7 separate regions of the Homo sapiens genome follow, and regions 2, 3, 4, 5, 6 and 7 are each reported to be linked to region 1. Evidence: microRNA targets listed by miRTarBase, many of them from high-throughput screens and not tested one by one. Region 1 holds a microRNA gene; each other region holds the end of a gene's coding sequence.
What was found. The annotated mature microRNA hsa-miR-30c-5p reads UGUAAACAUCCUACACUCUCAGC and lies in region 1 at 2,071-2,093, shown strand. An mRNA with a match to its seed (bases 2 to 7 or 8) in the 3' UTR can be bound and repressed. Matches are read on the target gene's strand: a 7mer-m8 pairs with bases 2 to 8, a 7mer-A1 pairs with bases 2 to 7 and ends in A, and an 8mer does both.

Region 2: miRTarBase lists SLC4A7 as a target of hsa-miR-30c-5p. Seed matches in the 3' UTR shown: 8mer at 220-227.
Region 3: the mRNA of AGPAT5 is a reported target of hsa-miR-30c-5p. The part of its 3' UTR that is shown has no 7-base or 8-base seed match.
Region 4: the mRNA of DNMT1 is a reported target of hsa-miR-30c-5p. The part of its 3' UTR that is shown has no 7-base or 8-base seed match.
Region 5: miRTarBase lists YTHDC2 as a target of hsa-miR-30c-5p. The part of its 3' UTR that is shown has no 7-base or 8-base seed match.
Region 6: the mRNA of SLC9D1 is a reported target of hsa-miR-30c-5p. The part of its 3' UTR that is shown has no 7-base or 8-base seed match.
Region 7: miRTarBase lists CSF1 as a target of hsa-miR-30c-5p. The part of its 3' UTR that is shown has no 7-base or 8-base seed match.

What each region holds. Positions count from the first base shown.
Region 1 is chr6:71,375,998-71,379,095 of GRCh38, reverse strand. MIR30C2 (microRNA 30c-2) reads left to right here and starts at 2,065; the gene lies at 2,065-2,136.
Region 2 is chr3:27,373,941-27,376,940 of GRCh38, forward strand. It overlaps SLC4A7 (solute carrier family 4 member 7), which reads right to left. Exons shown (of 26, transcript NM_001321103.2): 26 at 1-2,905. The coding sequence ends at 2,824. Among named protein-coding and RNA genes, the nearest start is that of NEK10, 6.1 kb to the left of the region's middle.
Region 3 is chr8:6,757,181-6,760,278 of GRCh38, forward strand. It overlaps AGPAT5 (1-acylglycerol-3-phosphate O-acyltransferase 5), which reads left to right. Exons shown (of 8, transcript NM_018361.5): 8 at 1-3,098. The coding sequence ends at 208. Among named protein-coding and RNA genes, the nearest start is that of MIR4659B, 13 kb to the left of the region's middle.
Region 4 is chr19:10,131,023-10,134,120 of GRCh38, reverse strand. It overlaps DNMT1 (DNA methyltransferase 1), which reads left to right. Exons shown (of 41, transcript NM_001130823.3): 41 at 420-775. The coding sequence ends at 454. Among named protein-coding and RNA genes, the nearest start is that of EIF3G, 13 kb to the right of the region's middle. RefSeq lists a silencer at 931-1,227.
Region 5 is chr5:113,593,055-113,596,152 of GRCh38, forward strand. YTHDC2 (YTH N6-methyladenosine RNA binding protein C2) reads left to right here. Exons shown (of 30, transcript NM_022828.5): 29 at 249-336; 30 at 428-2,230. The coding sequence ends at 329. Among named protein-coding and RNA genes, the nearest start is that of YTHDC2, 81 kb to the left of the region's middle.
Region 6 is chr13:113,548,920-113,552,017 of GRCh38, reverse strand. SLC9D1 (solute carrier family 9 member D1) reads right to left here. Exons shown (of 13, transcript NM_017905.6): 13 at 1,789-2,593. The coding sequence ends at 2,480. Among named protein-coding and RNA genes, the nearest start is that of TFDP1, 34 kb to the left of the region's middle. RefSeq lists an enhancer at 1-284.
Region 7 is chr1:109,924,849-109,927,946 of GRCh38, forward strand. It overlaps CSF1 (colony stimulating factor 1), which reads left to right. Exons shown (of 9, transcript NM_000757.6): 8 at 299-354. The coding sequence ends at 341. Among named protein-coding and RNA genes, the nearest start is that of CSF1, 16 kb to the left of the region's middle.

The sequences.
Region 1 (3,098 bases):
GCAATTATGTGACCTAGGCACAGTATAATGGTGGTAAAAGGAAAAATGAACAATTCCTCCTCAGGTTGGGGGAGGGGTGTGGGTGTTAGGGATGACGCTGACCAGAGAGGATTCACAAGAGAGAATACTTGATTTGGGATTTGAAGACTGTATGGGCACTTGCCAGGTAGAAGAGTAAGCAGAAGTGCAGAAACAGAATAAAGAACAGGTTTGTGTGATTTAGTTCTTCAAGTGTTTTCACCCTTTCAGTTGTGACAGAATTCAGTATTCAATGAGCATGGGGTCATAACTTTGCAGCCCAGCCCATTCAAGTTATCATTCTTAGGGCTCTTTCCTTCTCCACTTCTCTTCCTATTCTTTCCCTCCTGCATGAAAGGCCTTATGAAGCCCAAGCCAGGCTTGTGAATTACCCATGACTTCTCCATCTCCACAGTGCCTCTCCCCTCAGCTACTCACTCACTGAATTCTGCTGTTCTTCTTGTCTTTATAATTTCTCATATTCATTTTCTCTGTGTTCTTACTGCCTCTTCCCTAATTAAGGCTCCCATGCTCTCCCTTACACTACTGCAGTGATTCTTTTCCTGTTTTCCTTACCTGCCACCTTAAAGCTAGAGTAAATTCTCTAAAGTACTGACATGGTCATCCCACTTGCCTGCTTACTATCTTTCACTCGTACCCATCGTTTGGAGATAATGCCCAAACCCTTTAACCTGGCACATAAGGACTCCCATCTTTCCCTTGTGTCTCTCCCCTTACCCTTCACCCACATGCATCTTTGACTCCACCTCTGCTGAATTCTTAAAGGCCTCAGCATACATTACCTTTGTCTTTCTTTCTCTATTGGATGACTGTTCTTTCTGGTACACTTTAAGCTACACTATCTTCTTCACTGCCCACCCCTTCCAAATTCCCATTAGCACCATCTTCACCTAGCTAATTTTATTCAGGCTTCAAGACTCAGCCTGGCTATTAGCCAACTCAGAAGTGTCTTTTGACCCATCATAACACTTATAGTAATGGTGTATGTGTCTGTCTTGCAAATTAAGCTGTGTCCTTCTCGAAGGTAGGGATGATACCCTTCATTTCTCATCACCTAGAATTTAAAACATTGCTGATATATGGCAGGCAGTCACAATTGTTTGTTGAATGAATGAATGAATGAATGAAATGAGTAAGATCCTGTAACAGTTTGGAATTATATGCCACCTGGGTTTACAGTGTAGTCTCTTATCAGGTAGGTTTGTTCTGAGATGTATAGTAATGATGACTTTCTTCTTCGCCCAAGTATTTTGTGTACCTTAGACCAGTTTAGCAAATGAAGTCCAAGAACTATTTGAATAAGTCATTCTTAGAAAATAACTTTAGGAAGCAACTGACTCCATTCATGTGTATGCCTCTAATTGTAGGTTCACTTCTGTCCGAATATGAATTTTTAAAATAATTTTAGCATTATATTAGCAATTTGCAATATACCATTTTTATGCATGTAAAGTTGTATTCTAACATATTTACTTTTTGCTCATTTGATTAAATTTATTACTGTGTATCCCATCATTAAGGTAACTAATTTTCAGTAATTAAACTGTTGGTCTTCTGTTTAGCCATTATTCTCAGTTCTGTGCAGGAGTGAGCTGAAACAAAGTTGTATAGCCCAGAGAGTGAGAAGCTGCATTTCATGTCTCCCAACAGTCAGAAAGGGATTATGTACTGTTTAAGGAAGGAGTTTGGCGAATATTTTGAAACCCTTTTGGGAAAGCATAGAATATTGAAAATCCAAAATTAACCAAATCCGTGAGTGTGCAAGCTCAAAGCTAGAGACCTTAGGAATATCTTAGGATGTGCAAAACAGGAAGAAAACAAGAACTGAGCAGGCAGCACTAAGTAAGTGTCATATAGCCTCCCCACCCACCCTTCCAACCCTACTCCTAAAAGAGCCATAATTTAGTCCCAAGTATACTTTTCTGATCTTTTCCTGTGACATATTATGGTATCTTCAAATGGTACTGGGTTTCCTGAGGCTTGTGCTGCTGACTGCCAACCCCATCCTAGAGAGCACTGAGCGACAGATACTGTAAACATCCTACACTCTCAGCTGTGGAAAGTAAGAAAGCTGGGAGAAGGCTGTTTACTCTTTCTGCCTTGGAAGTCAACTAAAGAGAAATGGATTTTGAATATTTCTATGTCTTAGAATTGATCCTATCCCGTGTTTGTTTCTGAGGTCAACTGTAAAAGGAAAAAAGGTGAATTGACTAAGTCATCCAAAGAAATGTAAGATAATCTATAATATCAGTTATATTTGAACTGTTTCACTTAGTTTAAAAAGAAAAAAAAGATTACCAAATACCCAAGTGACAAAAGTTCTGGTTAACTTGTATGAGGCTACATTTTGTGGGTTGCTGCAGTCTGATCTGTAAAAGCAACACATTACCTATACGTTAAGCTAAACATTTCTCCTTTAACCTGAGAGCATTCCACACTGAAGTCTGCTTTTCTTGAAGCAAAAATTCTAGTGTCCTTGGACTTGCTATTTTATCAGGGATCAAAGGCACCTTGGAGCCCCATGCTTTAGGAATTGTAATGGCAAACAATAAGGTCTGCTCTTTAAAGCTAGAATATAGTTACACATTTCAGGAAAAAATAGAATTGTTGTTGGAGGACGGGAGAGGAAGGAAAATGTAGAGGTAAGGGATGGGATGCAAGAAGTTAATTTTAAGAAAAATCTACAGAACGAACTCATAAGTTCAGCCTTAACCAGAAAAACTCTTTCATGTAAATCGTTTAAATCAAAGGTCTATTAAACATCTAATCTAGAATGTAACTTACCTGAAATTTGAGTCCATTGCTGATTTATTTAAAATTATTATGAAATAAGCCTTCTTGTTAAAGAGAATATTTAAATAAGGCATATTTTTATATAACAAGCCCTTAAGAAGTTAAATAATTAACTTAATGCTTCTATTAAAAATTAAACAAATCTGAACAAAATTACTCTAGTCTTGGCATATCAGCATATATCAGTCATTTAAACTAAAAGACACTCTACTACTTTAGAAGTATTAGAGGAGCTTTTAATTTTACCTCCGCACTGACTGTAGAGC
Region 2 (3,000 bases), not on the chromosome of region 1:
GATCAGTATCATTCACATTCACACAAACATACACACACTTTAGAAAGACTGTGTGCTTGGCTTCGGCATATTTAATATCATTAAAGAATATATAGAATCATCCTTTTATCATAAGGAATTTACATCATTGTTTTCTCAAAAGCTGCTATTTTAGATTGAAACAGCATTCAGAAAAAAAGTACATTTCAGATGGTCAGCATCAGGATTTACTACAGACTTTGTAAACAGATATCTATAAATAAATAAACTAGGGTGGAGAAAAGAATATCCTGAGGTGGCTCTGTGGCCAGGGTATTCAGTAGCACTAAGCTCCATTCTGGAAATCAAGGCATCTAAAGAAAGTGCAGGGCTGAATTTATTTTGTAAATGGAATATGTACAGGTTTAATTATTTTGCACCTTGAGGTAAATCAGTACATAGCAACTACTACTGCTTACATACACTTATTTAAGGCAACTTTATTTAAAAATCAATATATGTAGTAAATTATATCTGTCACTGTCTCTCAATGAATGCTATCTTTGATTATTTTTCAAAAACAGTGGAAGAAATATAATCACTTAAAACAAGCAGTTAATTACCTAAACATGAGTTACCTTTGCTCTTAAATGGAGTAGTCAGATCATTTTGTCAGTCAAGTAGTCAAAAGAAAGCAGAAACCAGTAACATTTAGAAGCATTGTAAAAACATTTTGAGTGCAAAGTATTTTGCAAGTGACGGTTTTTCTGGCACTGGATAATTACTATACACAATTAAATAAAATCACAGAAACACTATGATCCCAGGTAGTTTTCAGTTTTAAAATTTCTTCCTGTAAAGTAAGTACAGTTGTTACCCCTGATGTCCAGACACAAGGAAATGATGTGAGGAAATCCTCTTGTTCAGGTACATCAGGGGAGTTTTAAAAATAGCAGCAAATACTGGGGTCTTTGGAAATAATTATGCTGCTACAAATAAAAAGGAATCATTACAATGGAAGCTCATAAACAATAATAAGCACCGTGGGTAATACTCTATCAATTGCCAATAGAGTCTAACTCTTTTTAGGCAGTACCAAATGATGACAGCTACATATTTTCTAAAGAAAAGCAGCTACATTTCCAACCTCTCATCCGAGGCAGAAGTTGAATCCATCATTTTAACAAGACTCTTACAATATGGTCTTAGAGGAGGACATTACATTAGTTAATAAATAGTTTATAATGAATTTAAAACACCAGACTTGCTAAAATTTCAGCTTTTGGCATTCCTCATGATCCTTTATTAGATTAATTATGTATACCTTTGTAATTTAATTATATGGTTAAAGGGAGCATTGGAATTTCATAAAATTTTCATCCTAATAGTGATGTCACCATTTTTGATATTTCTGTGGCTTCTCAATACTCATTTGATTTTTGTAAATTATTCTCTTGTCAAATCAGTTTCACAACCCCATTCATCCAGTCCTACAGGCTTAACAACATTTATTTCATGTGGAACTAAAAGTATATAAAAGATGACTAAAAAGATTTGTTAGACTTTAAAAAGCTCAGAAAAGCAAAAACTAATACACAAAATAAAAATGTCATTAATCTGAGCTACATATAAAATGTCTAATTTCCTTTTAAAATATAAATATGGCAGTGCTTTATATCAAAGATGTAAAATCTATCAATTGCTTTAAGATAATAAACATAAATGAAAGTAAGCACCAACTATTTACATTAACAATTTACTCTATTTGTTACTTTTCCAAATGTTTATATAATATTTAAGCATCATATCAAAATAAATATTTTAAAATAAAATCACAGGTAACAAGCTATTAAATGTAATCTACAAAAGTGAAAGAATAACATAAAGAGAAAATGAAAGGTAATTCTTAATAAAGTAATACTGATCATAGACCCTTCTGAGAGAATTCTAACTCCTGATTATTTACGCCTACTACTTATAAGAGAATAATAGTCAAGAACTTGAACCTGATGGAAACTAAAGCATTTTAAGACAAAGAGAGACAAGGCAGAGAACAGAGTGGGAATCATTGGCTTTAAAAGAGCATAAGGATTCAGAAAAAATATTCTACAAAGGCATCAAAATCAACTATTGCAAACTGGCATTGTATAACTTTTTAAATTCAGAAGTTATAAATGGTATGGGTGCTTAATTATCAAATCACCTGCAATTTTACTTGTCTGTCACAATGGATACCTAGATATGAAGGTTTTAAGATTTAAAAAAAATTTAAACATAAAAGTTAAAAACTATCATTATTAAAGTTTCTATTGTTCTACAGTCATCTCTATGGCTAAGAAAACGCCAGTTAGTGAAACACGATGGACATCTACAGAAATGAAACACAAATAGAGAAGCCCTGAAATGTTACCATTTTTCCCACAGCACTGGTATAGACTCCCTATTCTTCCCATAAAGCACTAACAAAAGTGAAATAATATGTGAAAATTTCAGGAAACACCTAAAAATTATAAACATATAAACAAAGTATCACTTAAGGTTTTTACGAATTGCCACTGATGAACAGAGATTTAAGAAAAGTAGACTGAAAGCATTTCTCCACATCCTTCTATTGCAAAACAGAAAATTTTTTTTTCTAACAGAATAAATATTTGAATAGTTAAGAACCATGTACCTCACTTCAAAGAGAGCATTTCATTAAATACATAGTCTCCACGGTGCTCATTACAAACTCCAGACACTACTTTTAAAAACCCGGTAGTCACACATAAACAGCATGACATACAATATTCTTATATATAGTGACATGATACGCACACATTACATATGTATATATCTATATGTATAATGCCTCTTGGTTCAATTCTATAATGAAGTTTCAGCATCCACGTATTTCTTTCTTGGTTCATCTTCAAAACTTATTTTCACACTCACAGGTTTATCAGGACTATTTAAAACAAAGAATTAAAATAAATAATTTTAAAATATAAATATTCAATTCTAAACATGGCTAACAATGAGTATACTAAACCTTCTGAGATT
Region 3 (3,098 bases), not on the chromosome of region 1:
TGAGTCACCAGATCCAGAAAGAAGAAAAAGATTTCCTGGGAAAAGTGTTAATTCCAAATTAAGTATCAAGAAGACTTTACCATCAATGTTGATCTTAAGTGGTTTGACTGCAGGCATGCTTATGACCGATGCTGGAAGGAAGCTGTATGTGAACACCTGGATATATGGAACCCTACTTGGCTGCCTGTGGGTTACTATTAAAGCATAGACAAGTAGCTGTCTCCAGACAGTGGGATGTGCTACATTGTCTATTTTTGGCGGCTGCACATGACATCAAATTGTTTCCTGAATTTATTAAGGAGTGTAAATAAAGCCTTGTTGATTGAAGATTGGATAATAGAATTTGTGACGAAAGCTGATATGCAATGGTCTTGGGCAAACATACCTGGTTGTACAACTTTAGCATCGGGGCTGCTGGAAGGGTAAAAGCTAAATGGAGTTTCTCCTGCTCTGTCCATTTCCTATGAACTAATGACAACTTGAGAAGGCTGGGAGGATTGTGTATTTTGCAAGTCAGATGGCTGCATTTTTGAGCATTAATTTGCAGCGTATTTCACTTTTTCTGTTATTTTCAATTTATTACAACTTGACAGCTCCAAGCTCTTATTACTAAAGTATTTAGTATCTTGCAGCTAGTTAATATTTCATCTTTTGCTTATTTCTACAAGTCAGTGAAATAAATTGTATTTAGGAAGTGTCAGGATGTTCAAAGGAAAGGGTAAAAAGTGTTCATGGGGAAAAAGCTCTGTTTAGCACATGATTTTATTGTATTGCGTTATTAGCTGATTTTACTCATTTTATATTTGCAAAATAAATTTCTAATATTTATTGAAATTGCTTAATTTGCACACCCTGTACACACAGAAAATGGTATAAAATATGAGAACGAAGTTTAAAATTGTGACTCTGATTCATTATAGCAGAACTTTAAATTTCCCAGCTTTTTGAAGATTTAAGCTACACTATTAGTACTTCCCTTTGTCTGTGCCATAAGTGCTTGAAAACGTTAAGGTTTTCTGTTTTGTTTTGTTTTTTTAATATCAAAAGAGTCGGTGTGAACCTTGGTTGGACCCCAAGTTCACAAGATTTTTAAGGTGATGAGAGCCTGCAGACATTCTGCCTAGATTTACTAGCGTGTGCCTTTTGCCTGCTTCTCTTTGATTTCACAGAATATTCATTCAGAAGTCGCGTTTCTGTAGTGTGGTGGATTCCCACTGGGCTCTGGTCCTTCCCTTGGATCCCGTCAGTGGTGCTGCTCAGCGGCTTGCACGCAGACTTGCTAGGAAGAAATGCAGAGCCAGCCTGTGCTGCCCACTTTCAGAGTTGAACTCTTTAAGCCCTTGTGAGTGGGCTTCACCAGCTACTGCAGAGGCATTTTGCATTTGTCTGTGTCAAGAAGTTCACCTTCTCAAGCCAGTGAAATACAGACTTAATTTGTCATGACTGAACGAATTTGTTTATTTCCCATTAGGTTTAGTGGAGCTACACATTAATATGTATCGCCTTAGAGCAAGAGCTGTGTTCCAGGAACCAGATCACGATTTTTAGCCATGGAACAATATATCCCATGGGAGAAGACCTTTCAGTGTGAACTGTTCTATTTTTGTGTTATAATTTAAACTTCGATTTCCTCATAGTCCTTTAAGTTGACATTTCTGCTTACTGCTACTGGATTTTTGCTGCAGAAATATATCAGTGGCCCACATTAAACATACCAGTTGGATCATGATAAGCAAAATGAAAGAAATAATGATTAAGGGAAAATTAAGTGACTGTGTTACACTGCTTCTCCCATGCCAGAGAATAAACTCTTTCAAGCATCATCTTTGAAGAGTCGTGTGGTGTGAATTGGTTTGTGTACATTAGAATGTATGCACACATCCATGGACACTCAGGATATAGTTGGCCTAATAATCGGGGCATGGGTAAAACTTATGAAAATTTCCTCATGCTGAATTGTAATTTTCTCTTACCTGTAAAGTAAAATTTAGATCAATTCCATGTCTTTGTTAAGTACAGGGATTTAATATATTTTGAATATAATGGGTATGTTCTAAATTTGAACTTTGAGAGGCAATACTGTTGGAATTATGTGGATTCTAACTCATTTTAACAAGGTAGCCTGACCTGCATAAGATCACTTGAATGTTAGGTTTCATAGAACTATACTAATCTTCTCACAAAAGGTCTATAAAATACAGTCGTTGAAAAAAATTTTGTATCAAAATGTTTGGAAAATTAGAAGCTTCTCCTTAACCTGTATTGATACTGACTTGAATTATTTTCTAAAATTAAGAGCCGTATACCTACCTGTAAGTCTTTTCACATATCATTTAAACTTTTGTTTGTATTATTACTGATTTACAGCTTAGTTATTAATTTTTCTTTATAAGAATGCCGTCGATGTGCATGCTTTTATGTTTTTCAGAAAAGGGTGTGTTTGGATGAAAGTAAAAAAAAAAATAAAATCTTTCACTGTCTCTAATGGCTGTGCTGTTTAACATTTTTTGACCCTAAAATTCACCAACAGTCTCCCAGTACATAAAATAGGCTTAATGACTGGCCCTGCATTCTTCACAATATTTTTCCCTAAGCTTTGAGCAAAGTTTTAAAAAAATACACTAAAATAATCAAAACTGTTAAGCAGTATATTAGTTTGGTTATATAAATTCATCTGCAATTTATAAGATGCATGGCCGATGTTAATTTGCTTGGCAATTCTGTAATCATTAAGTGATCTCAGTGAAACATGTCAAATGCCTTAAATTAACTAAGTTGGTGAATAAAAGTGCCGATCTGGCTAACTCTTACACCATACATACTGATAGTTTTTCATATGTTTCATTTCCATGTGATTTTTAAAATTTAGAGTGGCAACAATTTTGCTTAATATGGGTTACATAAGCTTTATTTTTTCCTTTGTTCATAATTATATTCTTTGAATAGGTCTGTGTCAATCAAGTGATCTAACTAGACTGATCATAGATAGAAGGAAATAAGGCCAAGTTCAAGACCAGCCTGGGCAACATATCGAGAACCTGTCTACAAAAAAATTAAAAAAAATTAGCCAGGCATGGTGGCGTACACTGAGTAGTTTG
Region 4 (3,098 bases), not on the chromosome of region 1:
CAGGCGGGTCACCTACCCACGTTCGTGGCCCCATCTTTCTCAAGGGGCTGCTGTGAGGATTGAGTGAGTTGCACGTGTCAAGTGCTTAGAGCAGGCGTGCTGCACACAGCAGGCCTTTGGTCAGGTTGGCTGCTGGGCTGGCCCTGGGGCCGTTTCCCTCACTCCTGCTCGGTGAATTTGGCTCAGCAGGCACCTGCCTCAGCTGCTCACTTGAGCCTCTGGGTCTAGAACCCTCTGGGGACCGTTTGAGGAGTGTTCAGTCTCCGTGAACGTTCCCTTAGCACTCTGCCACTTATTGGGTCAGCTGTTAACATCAGTACGTTAATGTTTCCTGATGGTCCATGTCTGTTACTCGCCTGTCAAGTGGCGTGACACCGGGCGTGTTCCCCAGAGTGACTTTTCCTTTTATTTCCCTTCAGCTAAAATAAAGGAGGAGGAAGCTGCTAAGGACTAGTTCTGCCCTCCCGTCACCCCTGTTTCTGGCACCAGGAATCCCCAACATGCACTGATGTTGTGTTTTTAACATGTCAATCTGTCCGTTCACATGTGTGGTACATGGTGTTTGTGGCCTTGGCTGACATGAAGCTGTTGTGTGAGGTTCGCTTATCAACTAATGATTTAGTGATCAAATTGTGCAGTACTTTGTGCATTCTGGATTTTAAAAGTTTTTTATTATGCATTATATCAAATCTACCACTGTATGAGTGGAAATTAAGACTTTATGTAGTTTTTATATGTTGTAATATTTCTTCAAATAAATCTCTCCTATAAACCACCCTGGGTGGGTATTCGTGATTTGCACGGGACTTCTGGCTGAGGTCAGACAGGAACAAGCTCTTCCATGCTGAAGGCGACCCACGTGGAGTTTGAAGCTAGCACGTTTGAAGCTAGACACTCCGTGTGTCTGTCTGTGTTTGTTCAGAACTGAGTCACGTGAGTTGATCCCCATGACATGCAAATGGAACTTGCTAGTGTAGCTTCCAGGAAAGCCTTTTAAAGGAAGTCTTGGCTGGCCTTCCCCGTGGCTGGTAGGCCTTCTTTGGTCTGAAGTGGGTTGTGATGCCTGGCAGTGGAGCAGCCATCCTGTGACCATGAGGCAGAGCTCTGTGCTGCAACTGGTGGAATAAGGAGAGAGAAGTCACCACTGAGCTGCCCTTGGAGCCCCGGCCACCCCATCCCCAAGCAAAACCTCTTTAGTTGGGTTTTTTTTCTTTCCAAAGAATTTTTTTTTTTTTTTGAGACAGTCTTGCTCTGTTGCTCAGGCTGTAGTGCAGTGGGGCAGTCTCCGTTCAATGCAGCCTCTGCCTCCTGGGTTCAAGAAATTCTGCCTCAGCCTCCCGAGTAGCTGGGATTGTAGGCGCCCATCACCACGCCCAGCTAATTTTTGTATTTTTAGTAGAGACGATGTTTCACCATGTTGGCCAGGCTGGTCTTGAAATCCTGACATGATCCGCCCACCTGGACCTCCCAAAGTGCTGGGTTACAGGTGTGATCCACTGCACCCAGCCTCCCATTAGCTTTTTTTTTTTTTTTTTTGAGACAGTTTCGTTCTTGTTGCCCAGGCTGGAGTGCGGTGGCACGATCTCTGCTCACTGCAACCTCCGCCTCCCAGGTTCAAGTGATTTTCCTGCCTCAGCCTCCCAAGTAGCTGGGATTACAGGCATGCGCCATCACACCCAACTAATTTTGTATTTTTAGTAGAGACGGGGTTTCTCCATGTTGGTCAGGGTGGTCTCAAACTCCCGACCTCAGGTTATCCGCCTGCCTCGGCCTCCCAAAGTGCTGGGATTATAGGTGTGAGCCACCATGCCTGGCCAGCATTTTTTAATAGTGACATAACACTTCTGTGTGTCCTTTGGCCACTGGATGTACCGTTTCTCTGTGATGGCCACATGACTGTCTTTGCTGGGAGCTCCCTGGGCATTTGGGATGACTGCCCCTGCTCAGTCATCCTGGCTTATCATGTCTGTGCCATACAGAGACCTCCCATTTTTAGGAAGTCAATTTATATTTGTCACTCTTAGTTTTTTGTAGCCTGTTTATTTTTGAGACGGATTCTCACTCTGTCGCCCAGGCTGGAGTGCAGTGGTGTGATCTCTGCTCACCACAACCTCCGCCTCCCGGGTTTAAGCAATTCTCCTGCCTCAGCCTCCCAAGTAGCAGGGATTGAGTAGCTGGGATTACAGGCGCCTGCCAGTACATCTGGCCAATTTTTGTTAATTTAGTAGAGACAGGGTTTTGCCATGTTGGCCAGGATGGTCTTGAACTCCTGACCTCAAGTGATCCTCCCAAAGTGCTGGCATTACAAGCATGAGTCACCGTGCCCGGCCTTTGTAGCCTATTTAGAAACGCCTTTCCTCCCCCCAGCAAGAGATCTTAAACATGTATCTTCTTCCACATTTCTGACATTCCCATTTTAACACATGAATCACTTTTGTAAGGACTAAAAATGGGGATCTCAGCTTATTTTTTGAATAAGACTGATAGCAAATGCACACAGCAAAGTACAACAGCTCAGCTTGACATATGGTAAAGTTCCCCCATCCGAGATTTTTTTTTAAATATACTTTCTGCTGCTATTTTAAGCTAAAAAATTCATTTTAAAGTATATAATGAGTATAATGAGTTTTCTTTTTCTGGATTCCAAGGCACCTTGATCAAGACAACTGAATCTTTGTACTAATGCATAGTGTGACCTTGTGAGAAAACAATCACCCATGTACCTATTATCTTTTTTTATTTTCTATTTTTTTGAGACAGGGTCTCAGTCTGTCACCCAGGCTGGAGTGCAGTGGCCTGATCTCGGCTCATGGCAACCTCCACCTCCTGGGTTCAAGTGATCCCCTGCCTCCGTGTAACTGGGACTACAGGACTGTACCATCATATGTAGCTAATTCTTGTTTTGTTTTTTGAGATGGAGTTTCACTCTTGTTGCCCAGGCTGGAGTGCAATGGCGCAATCTCGGCTCACTGCAGCCTCTACCTCCCGGGTTCAAGGGATCCTCCTGCCCCAGCCTCCCAAGTAGCTGGGATTACAGGCGTGTGCCTGGCGAATTTTTGTATTTTTGGTAGAGACGGGCTTTCACCATGTTGCCCAGG
Region 5 (3,098 bases), not on the chromosome of region 1:
ATCTGTTGCCATTTTGTCACAAAAGTTGAGAGATTTTGCAGATTAACTGTAATCTTAAATCTGGAAGTCAACTCCATAAACCTTAAAGCAAAGAATTAGAACAATTCATACCAGATGATTTTAGCATACGCTGGTAGGAAAATGAAATTTAAAGTGATTTTCTTACATTTTTATCAGTGTAGGTTTTGGTCATTAAAAATTTTCACTCCAGTTCTTTTTATGTTTATTTTGACTTCTGATTTATCTAGGAACTAGAACCTCTGGTTGGTGAACAGTTGCTCCAGTTATGGGAACGTCTTCCCTTGGGAGAAAAAAACACAACTGATTGACACTCAGGTTATACCATCTTGACTTTGAGTATTGGCAGTATTTGTGATCATTAGGAACCTTTCAGATTATTTATCTTTTTTTTTCCCCTTTCTTCTAGAACTCTTAGCTGTGGAAGAACATCATGCCTATTTATAACCACTGAATGCACTGACTTTCAAAAACTGAGGTGGGGTGTGTGTTACGAATGGGCTTTTTAACACTTTTAGAGTGTTGCTTTAGAACTACCATCTTCATATACAGGAGAAAGGAAGCATTTAAATTTTTATAGTGATTATAGAGAATGATTATATGATGTTTGTAATGAATAAAATAGTAGTTTCATTATTTGGCACAATAGCAGTTTATTTTAAACAAACAATTTGAAGTTAAACATTTCATTTTTAAAAACACTGAATTACAGTTCTTATTGATGACTTTTTAATGCAGAGTAAGTTGTTTAAGAAAGGCCTGAATATATCAGAACATCTGAGCACCATTTTAGAAGAGTCAACTCTTAAGATTATCATTAGAAAACAAATACGTCAACACCTATGAAAAGAAGCGGGGAAAACAACAACAAGGACAACAACAAAAAACCAGTGAAATTCTACAAGTGTCCCTTTTAAAAATAGTGTGTGCTAACTAAGGGCTATTCATTCTGCCATTTTTAACTTGAGACACATTTAAGAATAAAGTTGGATGTTCTTTTTCTGTGATTATGAAATGCAATAAAATCTGAATAAAGGGCAAAGTTTCTTCCTGATCAGATTAGATTAAGTGCTTAGTTTTATTCCTAATTCTGCCCCTTTTAACCTGATGTGTACCTTACTCTTTCCTCCCTCTCTTCCTCCCTTCCTCCTCTCCCCGCTCCTTTCCTGCATTTCTCCCTCCCTCCTTCCCTCGTCACATCTCTTATATGAGCACAGTAATTATGACCTTTTTGTTTTGGCTACAACTTGATTGAAACAAGTTCAAAATTTAAACAAGTTCATACAAGTTTTTAAAAATTCTCAACTGGTAGCTTGCTTGCTGTGCGTCTTCCAAACTAAAGCCTGCAAGCGCCACAATTCTAAGTGCCGCCTTCCATTTTTTTTCAGTATGTTTTCACTGGCTTATGTTTTCAGATATGATTTTCCTTTTTCGCATATATGGTTTAATAAATGGGGGATAATTTTTTTTTTGTAAATCCGTGCTTGTGCCAAGTCTCATATTTCTTTGCCATCTCAGAATTATCTTTTTACCACCACTGTTTATAAAATTTCCTTAGAGACTTTTTGAAGGGAAAATAGAGCAACAGGGAAAAATGAAAGAAATGTCTTGGTTACTGAGCTCTAAATAGACAGGTTTGATGGCACTTCTCATGATACATTTTAGTTATTCTTATAAAAGCAAACAGGCAAACATGAGTGTAAATTAAAGACAAAAAGAAAACTCTGGTTTTATATTTGAGAACACGTGAAAAATCATGGGTCAACATAAAATCTTGAGAACCTTCTACTTTCTCTGGGAAAGCATTATATAGTGGTGCATTAGTTTAGAAAGTCAGCTATGATTTTGCCTATAGTTCTAGTTATTAGCTTTGGGGTTTTCTTGTACTTTAAGACATACCTGTAAATTGAACCTATTTGAATTATATTCCACTGTATGTGTATTATGGCTCTTTTCCTATTAGAGCAACTTGTGTTTCCCTGATAATGTGTACATTTTTTAGGCATGTACTTAATAGTTCACAATGTTCTAAATTTGGAAGGACTTAAAAAAAAAACTTGTTTAAATTTCCATCTGTTTTGTAATATCTAGCTCTATATGTAAATGATGGGTTTGTTGGTATTTAAAATGAATACAACTTGAATGTAATTAAAGTGCTGTTTTTTGGAAGCGATAAACTTTAAATATACTTATTAAAATGAAATTCTATTAAGTTTTTCAGATCTTATTTCTTATACTTTATAATAAGACTAAGTTAACAATGATCAACAATATCCCCTGAGATAATAATGAATTTCAAACACCTTGAAGAATACTAAATTGATATAGAAGGTGATGGTTTGTATTGAAACTCCCTTCCCTGTAAATTGCCTTATTTCAATAGGAGATGGCAAAAATCTCTTTTGTTTAGTATAAAATATTTTAAATATTAATAAAATATACAAAAATAGGAAACTTAAACTATATTAAAACATTTCTAAATATTATGAATAGTACCTTGTACTTAAATGTTAGTATTTTTCTAACTTTATTCACAAAGTTCTTGTCTAAACATCCAGGAGAAAGTTAGTTATAGTATAATATCTTTTTTTTTAATAGTACAATATCTTGGTAGCTAACACTACTTTTTCTGAACAATTTAGTTCTTTTCTGTCAGCTAATGTTTCCTTTCTTTCAGCTAATGAAGCCATCCATTCAGAAAAGGTGGAGCAGCTGCTGTTTTACCCAGACATTTCTTTGTAGAAAATGGTAGTAGCATCTTAGATACTTGGCTTCCATCAGTCCTTTCATCTCCCAGAGAATTTTAATATTTGCTTTCACTAATTCTCTGGAAGCAGTTTGTTGTCTTTTTTTTTTTTTTTTTTAAAGGCAAGGTCTCGCTCTGTCACCCAGGCTGTAGTGCTGTGGTGAGATCACAGCTCACTACAGCCTCAGTCTCCTGGGCTCAACCAATCCTCCCACCTCAGCCTCCCAAGTAGCTGGGACATGCCACCATACCATGCCTGGCTAAATTTTTTTTTTTTTTTTTTTTTTTAAGGAGACAAGGTCTCGCAATATTACCCAGACTGGTCTCAAACTCC
Region 6 (3,098 bases), not on the chromosome of region 1:
CAAATTTAAGATGAAGATGTCATGATCAGGCTGGTTAGCCTCCAGCAAACATGTCCCCACAAGACTCACCATGAGTCCGTCCTCCCACTTCTTTCTAGTGACATGCTACACACTGGGGAAATGCTGAGAGCAGGGTGGGGGCAATGTGGCTACCAGGGGCTCGGTGGCTCGGAGACCCCCATCTGGATGACAGGGGCAGACATGATGGGGATGGGATGGGGAGGGTGAAGCTTTCTGGAAGGTCTGGATGAAAGAGGAGTCATGAGGTCAAGAAAGGGTTCTGCTGGGTCAGCATGGGACAAACGGGCAGGTCACAGATGAGGAAGTCACTAGCAGAGAGGTGGGGGTGAAAACGGGAGTGACGGGTTCACAGAGCCAGGTCCTGTGGCTGGAGTGGGGCAGGTGGGCCCAGCTGGGGCTTTGAGGACACCGTTCCTGGGCAGTTAGGATCTTACCTGAGTGATCAGTTAGGCAGAGACCCTAGCATGCTTTCTCTCGTCATTCAGGGCACTTCTTATTTCATCTTGCAGAGAGAGGCTAATTTCGTGTTTTGGGGGGAGTTTGATGTTACTCTCATCAAGTCGGTTTCCTTCAGTTTAACAAAATTAAAAAGATGGTCACAGGTGTTGGAGACAAAAAAAAAGTCACCCTGTTGCAGAGACTCCACTGTATCCTGAATGCCTGGATGGGGAGAAGGCGCGTGCACAGGGAAGATGGAGTGTCACAGGCGTGGCAAAGCAGCACAGGGACACAGTGATAGGCCAGTCAGCCTCAGGCAGACAGGCCACACCCAGAACGCTTCACATGCACCTGGCAACATCTCATATATCATCACGAGTGGAGGAGAAAACGGCACTAGACCATTTGGGCTCATTTAGAAATGAAAAACCAAAGATATTTTCTAAACATAAACATGTTGGTATCATTTCTCCATTAATCTGCTTCAGACTAGATACAACTTACTTCAAAATGTTTTAATTTATACTACTGCAATCGATAATTTATGTGTGCAATACATAATTACACCTGCCATTTTTACCTTCTCTATCTCAAGTATTTTGGTCAAATTGTTAGGCTCTTAAAGCTGACAGGTATACGAAAACCCTGGCTTAAAGTACTTGCTATGTTGTACACAATAAATATGTTGACTTTTATCTGTCAATTAAAAAAATTCATGCAGTTGAAAAAGCCTAATACGGTACCTGCTACGGTTCAAATGCTTCTGTCCCCTCGATGTGCACTGCAAGCGTTGGGAGGTGAGGCCTGCAGGGAGGTGTTTAGGTCAGGAGGAATCTGCCCTCGTGAATCAATGCTGCCACACAAAGGGGACTGGGGAGTGGTTGGCTCTCCTGCTCTTCTACCACGTTAGCACCCAGCCTTCCTCCCTCTGGAGGACCCAGCGTTCCAGGCACCATCCCGGAAGCAGAGAGCAGGCCTGACCTGCCAGCACCTCCATCTTGTTGTCCCCAGCCTCCAGAATTTCGAGAGATAAGTTTGTGTTCTTTGTAAATGACCCAGTTTCAGGCATTCTATTACAGCAGCACAAAACAGATGAGCACAATGCCTCTTAGGGAAGTCCTTGTGAGGCTCAGATCCTCACCTGTGTGGTTTTCTAAACTGGGGCACATAATCACCAAAATAGATATTTAAATATCAAAAGTTAGAACTTATCAATTAACACTGCATTAATTTGGTGTCTTGGAGAATAGCATGTTAATATAGAAATCATCTTAGTAAAAAAAAAAATTGGCTGGAATTTTGTATAAAGATAAGCTCAATACAAAAAAATTAATAAAAACAGATTTTAATAAATTTCAATTAATTATACCATGATCATAAATTATCTTTATTAAAGAATACATATTCTTGTGATTTAAAACCAAATATTTTAAGTGATATATCTAATAGAAATTGACATGAAATTATTTCATTTAAAAGTTACAATAAAAGGCAAATAGACATCCGTATTTGTCTCATTTTAGAAAACATAGGCTTTAAGAATCAAAAGTAAGCTTCCAAGCTCACGGCCAGGATTACAACTTCATATTACAGAAATGTTTAATAACAAATATTTGACTAACAGATTATAATTCTGAAGTTGTACATTTTTAAAAGCCTTTTAATTTTGCTTCTTTACTAAAAAAACTATGAACTGATGAACTCACAATAGAAAATTAATAATAATTTCAGGGAAAAAAAAAAAAGGCACATCCAGGCACCACATTCAAGGTGATCGGTAAAACGCAGTGTCCCGGGTCTACTGCACATAATCAACAGACTGCAAATAAACTACTCCGGAAAATTCTAAAATAGGACAAGAATATTCTGTAAAAGCCGGGATAACACGACTGCACTGACGCTCTGCTAGAGGGCTGTTCTGTTGCCAAGGTGCGAGCTTCCCAGAAGGAGCAGCTGCTGGCCATCTAAGCGCTCACTCCCCACAGACGCTTCCCTTCCACGGTCCATCATCTCCGAGCCATCAGAGGCTGGACCGTCTCTCCGGTCTGGGCACACACCTCGTGATTGCAGCTCTCCACAGCACCGGGGCGAGCAAGAGGCTGAGCGTGGTCACACTCAGTATAAGGAGGTACACCTGCAACAGCAAAGTGCAGAGCGGGTCACAGAGACTGTCAGGACTAGCACCTGCAACAGGAAAGCACAGGGCTGGTCTCACTGAGCTGGGAGGGACGCCTGCAAAGCTAGAGTCCTGAGGCTGAGCACAGTCACGCTGAGTGCTGGGAGGGATGCCTGCACGGGGGGGTGGGGGATGGAAGCTAAGCGCGGTCATGCCGAGTGCTGGGAGGGACGCCTGCACATCATAAATTCACTACTATCTCTTTAAAGCACATGGAAGTACAGCCAGAAGCTGAGGACATTGGGATGTAGGAGAGACTGTGATTTCAAGATCAGTGATGCATGGTTAGTCCTGATGGGCCACAGGATAACAGCTTTAGCCTGTGTTTGCCTGAAGGCCAACCCCGGGCCACAGTAACAAGCCAGCCTGCCCCACAGCTTCCCTGACCCTGGGGATGCGGCCTTGGGTCAGGCCTCAGGTGGAGCTTCCTGTAAGCAATTCTACCTTTCAGCAATTACTTCCA
Region 7 (3,098 bases), not on the chromosome of region 1:
TCTGGGAGGCACTGGGGGCCTGGCTTGGGATCTGTTTCCCCTCTTCGTGGTGGTGGGGCTCTCCTGCTTGCTCTGAGGAAATGGAGCTGCAGAACAGGATGGGGGAGAGAAGAAGGGCCTCTGTCCTTTCCCAGATATCTGGGCTTTTTCCTGATTTCTCCGTAGAGTTAGACAGTTCTGGGTCTTTTCAATCTGAGAGGGCCTAGAGCATGTCTGGGGCTTAGGGGTAAACTTACGGAGTCCCCTTATTCCCCTGCTCCTGCTGATGTCTAATACCAGCCCTGTGCTCTGCCTGCAGCCCCCTGACTCAGGATGACAGACAGGTGGAACTGCCAGTGTAGAGGGAATTCTAAGGTAAGATTCTGACTTTGATCTCCACTCCTAAAACTTACCTATACCCTTTTCCAGTCACGTTCACCTGTTGGTGACACCAATTCCCCTGAGGCCCCCACACTGACTCCCATGCCTCTCTCCAGTTCCCTTTCCATACATCGCCAGCCAGGTCCAGCCACCCTCTCCTTTCCAGGTCCTCAGCTATCCCCCTGCCCCTCCATTCCATCCACCCCCGCTGAGGCCAGGGACTATTACCTCTGCATTGGGCTTCTAGTGTTGCTGCCACCTGTGACCTCAGAGCAACTAAACCCCCCTTTTTCAAATGTGGCCTTTATAAGGTCTTTACCCTCCTGGAGAATCTTCAGTAGCTCTGTGTGGCAGCCACTGCAAGCCCTATATTCTTGGCTTGGCTGCCAAGCCCCTTCGACAGCAGCTGCTTGCCAGATCGCCACCCCCGCACCAGTTAACCCTCCTCCCCAGCTGAGGTCAGTTCTGCTTCCTTGCTTTTAGGATCATGTTGACATAGAACCTGAGTCTTGGAAGGGCTCTCAGGGGTCATTTGGCCCTGGTTCCCACCCCAAAGGGACTGCCCCTCTCCATGTCCCCAACAGGGAGCCAGCCAGCTGGCTGTCACACACTCCCAGATCCAGCCCAGCTCCCTGCCTAGCCACAGCCCATGCCATCTTCCAGTCAGACTGGGAGAAACGTCTTCCTCATGCGAGGCAAAACTGGCTTCCCTGCCCCCTCCATACTGCTCCTCCCTCCTGTTCTCATGAAAACCCTCAGATATTTCAAGTCAGGTATCCATGTCCCCTTTGAGAATTCTCTAAGCTAAGTATGGCCAAGTCCCTCAAACGTTCCTTATATGATATGGTTTTCAGACCCCTCACCATCCTGGACACACTCGTTTGTCAATGTCCCTCTGAAAATGTGACGCCCAGCCCCGGACACAGTACTCCAGATGTTGTCTGACCAGCTCAGAGAGAGTACAGTGGGACTGTTACCTTCCTTGATATGGACAGTATTCTTCTATTTGTGCAGATTAAGATTGCATTAGTTTTTTTCTTAACAACTGCATCATACTGTTGTCATATGTTGAGCCTGTGGTCTATTAAAACCCCTAGTTCCATTTCCCATAAACTTCTGTCAAGCCAGACCATCTCTACCCTGTACTTGGACAACTTAACTTTTTTAACCAAAGTGCAGTTTATGTTCACCTTTGTTAAAGCCACCTTGTTGGTTTCTGCCCATCACCTGAACCTACTGAAGTTGTGTGAAATCCTAATTCTGTCATCTCCGTAGCCCTCCCAGTTGTGCCTCCTGCACATTGATGAGTGCCTGCTGTTGTCTTTGCCCATGTTGTTGATGTAGCTGTGACCCTATTGTTCCTCACCCCTGCCCCCCGCCAACCCCAGCTGGCCCACCTCTTCCCCCTCCCACCCAAGCCCACAGCCAGCCCATCAGGAAGCCTTCCTGGCTTCTCCACAACCTTCTGACTGCTCTTTTCAGTCATGCTCCTCCTGCTCTTTTGTATTTGGCTAATAGTATATCAATTTGCACTTATTTGGATGTTGTTTTCATATTTTTTAAAATCTTATTTTATATGTATTGTACATTCCACATCCCTAAGATTGTAAGCCCCTTGAGGGCAGGGACTGTCTTCCACTTTTTTTTGTGTTTCTTTTTCCATCCTGGGTTCTACTAAGAGAGGGCCTCTCCACATTTGCCAAACATGCAATAAATGTTGACTGACTGGCTTCAGGGCTGACTCACGGACTGACCCTGGCCAGCTGTCTCTAACTGACCAGCCTCTAGCTGACCAGTTAACCAGCTAACTGACTGACTCTGACTGACTGGCTGACCAGCTGGCTGGGTGAATGACTAACCAACCAACTATCTTGGTAACTGCCTAACTGACCAGCTGTTGCTTGGGGAGCCCATTGAGCAACTGACTAGCTGATTGCCTGACTAATTGGCTGGTTGGCTGACTAGCTGGGGTGACCCAGTCAAGTTTCCAGTCACATCCTTTACCAAGTGCAAGCCAGTGCCGCAGGGCTCTCCCATGTGTGGAGTGACAGGTCTGGGCCCCTTCTAGAGAGATAGGGAATTTGGCAAATGCTCAAAACCAGGGGAACCTATTTAGACAAGAACCAGCAGTAACAACATATCTGGAATCCTGGGGTCTACCTTGTCAGTGGGGTGGGCTAAGATGGGTGAGTGGGTCAGCTGGGGCACTGGCAAGACTGTGAAATGACCCAGGCCTCCTCAGAACTGGTTGCTGGTGGCTCAGTGCCACAACACCCTTCCCACGGGTCGTCTGTCCCCAAACCCCTCGCCGTGGTCTTGGCCCTCTGTCCCACCCCTCTACACGCCCACCCTCCTTTCCCCACTTGCTTATTCTCAGGCCCGTCCCAAGCTTTCCTCTTCCCCCTCAAGATTTCACTTGGAGAGGGAATCCAGGGCAGGGGCTACATCCAGATCCCACTTGGCCCGGCAGGTCCAGCCCTAAGGTGGTCTCCAGGCCAGGCACCAGTGGCCTTGGAGAGATTGAGTGCCAGCCCCTAGAGTGACTGCTGCTGTGATTTGAGAAGTGAGAGAGAGAAACATAGAGGCAGAGACTGAGATAGGGACTCAGAGCCACAGAAAATGCAGACACCAGCACCTCAGCCCTAAGCAGCTAGAAGATGGGGCAGCAGGCTGGAACTCGCTCACTGGGTCCTTCTCCCCTCCTGGGCCCTAGCTGGGCCTGTGGCCTGGCTGTACCC